2 linked regions of the Homo sapiens genome follow. The protein of the gene in region 1 purifies or fractionates together with the protein of each later gene. This does not show direct contact. Each region holds a gene or a part of one and is shown in the gene's direction. Other genes may lie near its edges. The genes, in order: SEMA3E and GLDC.

Region 1 (4,553 bases):
GTAATGTCTCACATTGTCTCAGTTCTATAGTAGAGTTAGGACAGGCACTATGCAATCTTAAGTAGAATTTCAGCTATGTGAGAGTAGCCATGAATTTGCAATAAAAGGTGTAGGCACCACATTTACTTTTCCTATAATCCTACTATTAGATAACACATATAAGAGCTGCTATTTATTTTGTCATTTGTTTCCATCCTAGAAGAAAGCAAAAGAGAATTTTGAAGGTACAATGTATCACATTTAGAGCAACCTTTAGGTCTGTAGCTCATCAGACTGGCTTTTAAAATATGCAAGCATTCCAGGTTAAAAGTCTCTAAATAACTTCATGTCATTTTACTGTTAAATAATGTTTAGAGTTTGCTATCTTTTGTAGACCTTGGAAATCTAATTATTTATAATGTCCAGTGACATTTACATTTTGCTAAATATACTCTGCTTGTACAAGAACATCTCATGATTAGAAAAATGGGTAGAGAATGCCTGGCTGTACATATGCTTCTATATAATGCAAAAATATCAGGGTGACACATGTTATCTTTTTGTTATAGTTTCGTGATTTTAAAACATAATTCTCAAAAAGTTTTTAACTATTAGCATTTAAAATACAGAATAAGAAAAAGTTATCATAGTTGAGATCAGTGTTTACCATTTAACTCTCCACTATCAAATCAAATATCTATTCAAGTTTATTGGTATCTTAACATAATACCATTCATTTCCATGCCAACAGCTCCTGAGTGTTTGGCTTAGTTTTTGAGATTGATTGAAGGTAGATTGTAAAGTTGACCTATTGTGTTAAGCTTATTTACACAAACACAGTGCCTTGGAAAATCAACTCTGGAAGTCCATAGCAGTTGAATCCTAAGGTATTGCACATCCTAAGTTTTCTAATACCTGCTTTATAGAAATCCCTTGGGTGGTGAATCTCAACTTTGCCAGTTACCTTACCTGGGGGAAATTACTTCAACATTCCTAAATTTGAAGTAAAATTTAGGAATTGCTTTAGGACAAAGGATTTGCCTTTAATTTCATTTGACCAATTTGCTTAAGTAAATAATTTATCATTTCTATCAAATTTATGAGACAGTCACAGATGAACTTTTTTTTTTCAGGCTCTTGAAACACACTTTTCTTAAAAGAGTTTAAAAATAACATCCCTAAGATATAAGCAATAGAAAAAGACTTAATTTTGAAAAAAACCTTATGGCAACAGTGAAAAACAGAATTTGGATTCTGGATGGTTACAAATAGATTATTTTCAAAAGAAGTTGGATTTATTCAACTTAGGTCAATTTATCTTGGTAAGAATTTAAAAGCGCTTTCTGATGCCACATCCTTGTCTGTCACCTATTCTTAAATAATCAGTCTATGTCATCACCCCTCCCGAACTCCCCATTTCCCCCATCAAAATGTGGACTTCTCTCCTGCTGCTGAGTAACGTGGGGCTGGTTATGACTGGGAGGGAGGATGGGAGCGAGGCACGTGGACCAGAAATACTTCCTAGAAACAGCAAGTACGCTGCTCAACCCTGCCTGAACTTTCCTGTAAACAGCCACTGACAGACTGCATCCCTGCTGGGTGGATCCTGCGACTCCTAGAGGGAATGGCACTTCTTGTTTTTAATTAGCAAGGTGAAAGGTGAATTAAAACTAGCAGTTTGGCAAGTCAGTGCAAGAGGCTGACTTCTGAGAGGCTTCCAGGAGCCCGAAGAGAGGACCTCCACGGGAGAAGGGAGTGCGTGTGCTCGGTTTTGTTTTTTTCTCTCTTTTTTTTTTTTTTTTCTGAATGAACAGCTTTGCCCAAGTGACTGAAAAATACAGCTTCTTCCTGAATCTACCGGCGTAGTTGCTGAAGAGCGCTCTAGACAGGACATGGCTCTGAAGACTCACTCTTTGGAATGTCCTCTTGCTCCCGGCTTATAAACAACTGTCCCGAGGAAAGAAAGGTTTTACATAGCCAAATACAGCCTGACAAATGGCACTTCGGAACTGTGCTTTCTGATGACAACGCGTTCGATTTCTGACAAAGCCTCTCGCACGCTGCCCCTGGAGGGAAGTCCTAAGTAAAACTCAGACCCTCCTTAAAGTGAGGAGCGAGGGCTTGGACGGTGAACACGGCAGCATGGCATCCGCGGGGCACATTATCACCTTGCTCCTGTGGGGTTACTTACTGGAGCTTTGGACAGGAGGTCATACAGCTGATACTACCCACCCCCGGTTACGCCTGTCACATAAAGGTAGGTTACCTTTCCAGATCCTTTTGTTTAAAAAAAAAAAAAAAGAAAAAGAAAAAAGAAAAAAAAAGTCGTTTAACATTAACATAGGCTTATGGTCTTCAAAGACCTTTAAAATGCACCTGAAAAATTTATTGCAAAACTGACCTAAAATTCTAAGTACCTCTGATTAATGTGTCATACTCACCTCATCTGAAAACAGTGCAAAATCACATGTCAACTTAGAGATGTTATTTTTGTCTGTAAACATTGGATTTTATCAATAAGGAGTTCACTCACTAGCCCGCGGAACACAGGAAGGGAGGAAGCAGGTTGAAAATAGCCTTGAGAGGCTGAATCCACCAAGTTAACAGTAGATATTTAAATATCAGTTTATGCATATGAGAAACAAGGATGCTGGGAAAGGGCTATAGAAATAGGGGTGCAATTTGTTCTTTTTGTTTTTGTTTTGTTTTGTTTCCATAATGGAGGTAAGAGGAGAAAATAAAAATCCCGAGGAGAAAAATGATGCCCTACCCATAACTGTCATCATCATGTAATTAAAATGATTAACAACTAATATAAATTAGTTTTCCAGTTGAATTGATTATTAGAATTTTTTCATGTGTGGCAAAGGAAAATAGTTTATGACAATGCTTGTAAAATGGCTAATATGGATTAAAGTATTAGTATTCACTAGCATTTGTAGTGTAAATTTATATTGCCTTAATGAAGATCTAACAGCAAATGTTTAAATATTTCATTCTACAATTGTCTTGTAAAGCAACATCATACTCATAAATAAATGATTAAAAGATAGATTTTGCATCAGGACCAATACAAGCCAGTCATGAATAGGTTTGGTAATTCCTCCTGTAAACAAACAAATAATAAACAAAACCATGCTCAGAGAAAGTGACTTTGCTGACTTAATATAAATTCGGAATAAATTGTCAGCAAAGAAGTATTTATTATCACTAGCCATTGACACATTGAGACAGATAGCAGATGTAATACTCAGGATTACATAAGAATCATTTTTCAATTGTGTAAGCTTTTAAATTGTCCCCCACTGTAGAAAGAACAGAAGCTTGTATTTTCTAAGTACAGGTAGAATATTTATCAGGAGAAACAAAAAGGGAGTCCTCAATTTTATGTGACACGTTTGGCCTTTTTGTCTTTTTATTGGACAATCTTCAGTAAATGTTGACTATAGAAATTTTTTCATTTTTAGAATAGTGGATGTTTTCTTAGTTTAAATAGATTTCCTATAATACTATCCAGTAGATAATATAAATTTAAGAAATCCATTGATACTAAATTGGTAAAGTGTTTAAAATATAGTGCCCAGAATTAACACTAATCTTTTAACTTGGGAAGATGTATCATGGTATGTATCAAAATGCCTATTTCTAAGAAGTTTATCATCAAAGATGTCAACATGTACAAATTTGATGTGATGGAATATGGACAAATAAAAATGCAAAAAAATATAATTGATTGTTTTTCTTATGTAGACAAGTAGATAAGCTGCCAGTTTTTGCAAGCTACAATTCTGTTATATCTAGTATTAACATTTTATACCCTATTATTGGGGTACTTGTGTTTTCATGGTTCAATATCAGTGTGTTTTCCAACAGGTCACATTTTAATATTTCATAAGAGAGTTAATAATTTGATCAAAAAATACCAAAGTTCTCTGATACAAGTAAATGTTATGCATAATACTATTATCGAGTTCATCTTTATTATGTCACTTATATTCAAAGAAATAATTGTAACTGATGTTATGAGTGGTGTCATATGGTGTGAGAGTAAAACCGCTAGTATCTATATGTACAATAGACTGAAAACTCCCACAGGATTTCCCTTAACTTTGAATTTAATGGAACCAGCTGAAAATGCACAATATGATGTTTTTATACAAAGGCAGAATAGAGAGAGTTACCTGAAAATAGAATGTTCCTACTTGTGCAATTTAGTTAGTAAAGTCAGTTAAGAGATCACACTGGAGATGCTACCTGAAGCAGCAAATGCCTACTGCACCTCAGGGGCCTCAGTGAAAAGAAGAGCATATATACTGTCAGAGGAGGGATATTCAGTCCCACCAATACAATATGAACAGCCCATTTATCTCTCTAGACTCTGGAATTCAGTGAATATTTTAGAAGTCTTCAAAAACTAGGAATAAGATATTACAGATTAATCTTTTGCTGACTTGACTAATGTCAGTAACGACAAGTGTTCAGTAGCGAGTGAATTAAGTAATTAATATTTAAATGAGTATATAATCTTTCAATATAAGAGGCACTAGGTATATGTCATATAGCATCTCTGTACC
Region 2 (3,822 bases), on another chromosome or scaffold:
GCAGTGGAGGTTGCAGCGAGCCAAGATGGCTCCACTGCACTTCCACCTGAGTAACAGAGTGAGACCCTGTCTAAAAAAAAAAGAGAAAGGAAGAAAAGAAAAAATCAGAATCCTAATTCATTTGATGTGTGAAGAGTGAAGAGTTGTGTATCTTTAAAGCAGGGTATTTTAGGTGAATATTTGAACAAGTGAATCCCTTCCTGAGACTTTCAAAGTCAGGGAATGTTTAGGTTAGCTATTTTTATAATATATATACTCTAAAATAAAGTGTTCTTTTCAGAGCATTAGAGCCTGGGAAACATGGCAAAGTTGTGTATCCTTTTTTAGTTTAGTTCTTGGTTCCAGCTGAATAATTTGAACATTAAGGGATTCTGATTCTTCACTGTGGAAGTGGGCTCCTGAAAAGTAATTTGCAACTTGAATATAAACTTAATTTTTTTATTTTTTATTTTTATTTTTGAAATGGATTCTTGTTCTGTTGCCCAGGCTGGAGTGCAGTGGCATGATCTCTACTCACTACAACCTCTGCCTCCCCGGTTCAAGCCATTCTCCTGCCTCAGCCTCCTGAGTAGCTGGGATTACAGACGTGCACCACCATGCCCGGCTAATTTTTTGTATTTTTAGTAGAGATGGGGTTTCTCCATGTTGGCCAGGCTGGTCTTGAACTCCTGACCTCAGGTGATCCACCCACCTTGGCCTCCCAAAATGCTGGGATTACAGGCATGAGCCACCATGCCCATGCCATATAAATTTTAAACCTAGCAGCTTCTGTGACATTTTGAGCTTGTTCCATCTAGTTTGGGATGATTCACGCAGAAAATATTGCACAATCAGAAGTCCCCCCATTCCCTGAAATGGACCAGTTCTCCAACAAAGCTTGTTTCTTGGAATAGTGAGCTGGGGGTGTTGGGAGAGTGGAGGAGGATGCATCTGCAAAGGATGAATTTTGACTCTGAGGTGTGCACGTGTCATGGTGAATGAATATTCTCCAGGTGGGGAGAGCAAATTGGTGCATGTAAGCTCTGGTAGTAGCATTTCCATTTAATAGTGGAGCACCATTACTCAAACTTGGCTTCATGTGAATGCCTGTGTTCTAGTGTAGTCAGAAAGGAATTCTGGATTAAATATTTATTTGCCATGTACAGAGAAAACTGTAGTGAGAGCTAGTTATAGGAGTGTTAAATGTCTTCATTGCAGAGTAAAGATTGTGATCAGTTTGGAAATACTTGGGTTACTTATTACACATAACTCAGTAATCTCAGACATTTATGTAGTGCTTACCATGTACTGGACACTCTTTAACGTGCTTTCATGTATTAATGTATATTACAACCCTATGAGGAAAATACCATTAATACTTCTGTTTTAAAAATGAAGAAACCGTGATATTCAGATGATGCATGACTTGCCCAAGGTCATAGCTGGTAAGTGATGGAGGCAGAATTCAAACCCAGGCAGCCCAGCTCCACTGTCCACACTCCATCCACTACTTTGCTCTCTCTTCATTTTGTCCTTTGCAAGGTCGTGGGTGTACAAAGTGGAAAACTTCTGTCCTGACTCACCTGGAATATCCAGTTTACAGATGTGCACAAACCCAGTTGCACTAGAATCACCCTGCCATATGCCAACTGCCCCAGTGGAAACGCAGCAGCTTCCTGGCAGCACAGACGTGGGAACACTCAAGCCTGCTGCTAGGGCAAGGGAAGGGGTCACGGAAGTGCAATACTGAAGAATGAGCAGTGATGCTCTGCTAGATAAATCTGGGGGAGGCTGCTGGAGGTAGTGGGATTAACATGTATAGGACAGAATGGCCGGACAGAACCAGGGGAGGACGGGTGGTTCATCAGTCACTAAGGATGCTCCCCCTCTTCTTGGACAATTCAGAAAGTGCCTTGACAAAATACTTTGATCATGAACTGGCTGCTAAGTAAGTCATTATTCAGAGAAACAAGCAAAGCTATTCAGTTCAAAATCCTGTCCTGCTCAAGTGAATCCTGCATTCCCCATCCACACGCACTCAACAACAACAAAAGGACTAGAAGGATATGTGTCACTGGCAACACTGATTTCTCTGAATGGTGCCCTTATTAGTGGTTTTAGCTTTCCTTTAATTACTTTGCAGTTTTGGAATTTTCTGCAGTGTAGGTATTCATTTTATAATTAATTCAAAGTTAAAAATTACTTTATGACCAAAGCCAGTTACTTTTAGCTATGGTATGCCTCGCTGTGTAGTCTTTTCAGTGAATTCATCTCAAGGCAACTAGACTGAACTAGACTGAACTAATCATAGATAAACTGCAGGGATTAAAGTTTACACAAAATTGCACATTGCTTGTGGAAGAGAGAGGAGAAACTAAACCCTCCAATGTTCACATTATTCAACTAGAACTGAGGAGATGAGTTGTCAGAATGATGGACTTGTGCCAGCTGAATGTTCCAGAGTGATTTCTACTAAATGGTTAATGGAGGGCAGTGAGCGGAGGGAGGGAGCATTGTGTAATGCAGCTGCAGGTGTTGGCTTTGTCACCCTAGTTGGGTTGCGCACTCTCCTGAACTGACCCCAGGGGCAACTAGGCCGTGGCAGCTGTTCCCCAGGCCGAGGCCACGACTTGTCTTTAGCCAGATGATGCCCATTGCCAGGTCCTGCCTGTAGGCCCCGCAGTCTGTGACAAGGCTTTCCTTTGGCCATTCCCGACTCATTCAATTCCCAGCTTATAGGAATTATTATTTCTTCTTTAGGATGATTCCAATAAATTTCCATTAAATGACTGTAACAGTAAAGATTAGCTAAATGAGAGAAACAAAGGCTGTAATGAGCTTGCTGTAGCAAGGGAGTCAGACTTGCATATTGGCAGAGGAGAGGAAAGCTTTATTGTGGAAAAAAGGGAAGCCTTTAGGTGTGTTCTGATTGGAGGTTGTTTACAAGGGAAGCTGTCTGAGGATTTACTAGAAGTCGGGCAACTGATGTGATTGGTTATGGGTACATGTTTGGCTTAGCCTGGTTGGTCCTATGTTGGAAGTGGGACAAAAATTAGGGAAGCTATCAGTTATTAATCGAGTTCTGGCCATTTGGGGCCAATTGTTAGGGAAGTTGTTGTTCGGTTTCCTGGATTGTCACTAGAGATAGCAATCTGGCTTTCTCTGTAAGTCTAACTTGTAGCAGGCTGGCTTCCTTGATTGTTTATTCTAAGTAAGCGGGTTAGTTTCCTGGACAGGTGTGGGTGAAAGTTCTATTTTTAAATATGGTCTGGTAATTGTCTATTTGTATATGTAGTCCCTCACAGCAGAATCTGTTTTGTCCATATATATATATATATATACTTTTTTTTTATGGTGAAAAGATATATATATATTTAGAATTAGGCAGCTGGACTCAGTTTAGATGATCCCAATTTTGTTGGCAACATCCAAAGCATCATAATCAGGAGCCAGTCGAACATATACCTTCTTCTCTCCATCAGGCCGAATCAGGGTGTTGCCCTTGGCCACATCATTGTCATAGAGCTTCTTCACAGCCTGTTTAATCTGGTGCTTGTTGACTTTAACATCCACAATGAACACAAGTGTGTTGTTGTCTTCCATCTTCTTCATGGCGACTCAGTGGTCAGCGTAAACTTGATGATAGCATAGTGGTCAAGCTTGTTTCTCCTGGGGGCGCTCTTCCGAGGATATTTGGGCTGTCTCTGGAGTCGCAGGGTCTTGGACCGCCGGAAGGTGGGTGATGTGCGGATCTTCTTTTTTTTTGTGGCTGTGGACACCTTTCAACACTGCCTTCTTGGCCTTTAAAGCATTCTCTTTGGCTTCGGCTTTAGGAGGGGCAGG

The links.
Region 2: the proteins of SEMA3E (region 1) and GLDC purify together in Homo sapiens (affinity purification with mass spectrometry; one large-scale study listed by BioGRID and IntAct). This does not show direct contact.

What each region holds. Positions count from the first base shown.
Region 1 is NC_000007.14:83,646,111-83,650,663, reverse strand, and holds the start of SEMA3E (semaphorin-3E isoform 1 precursor), read left to right. Parts: upstream 1-1,524; 5' UTR 1,525-2,121; coding exon 2,122-2,236; intron 2,237-4,553. UniProt on the Homo sapiens protein: Plays an important role in signaling via the cell surface receptor PLXND1. Mediates reorganization of the actin cytoskeleton, leading to the retraction of cell projections.
Region 2 is NC_000009.12:6,639,168-6,642,989, reverse strand, and holds part of GLDC (glycine dehydrogenase (decarboxylating), mitochondrial precursor), read left to right. Parts: intron 1-3,325; exon of another isoform or gene 3,326-3,822. UniProt on the Homo sapiens protein: The glycine cleavage system catalyzes the degradation of glycine.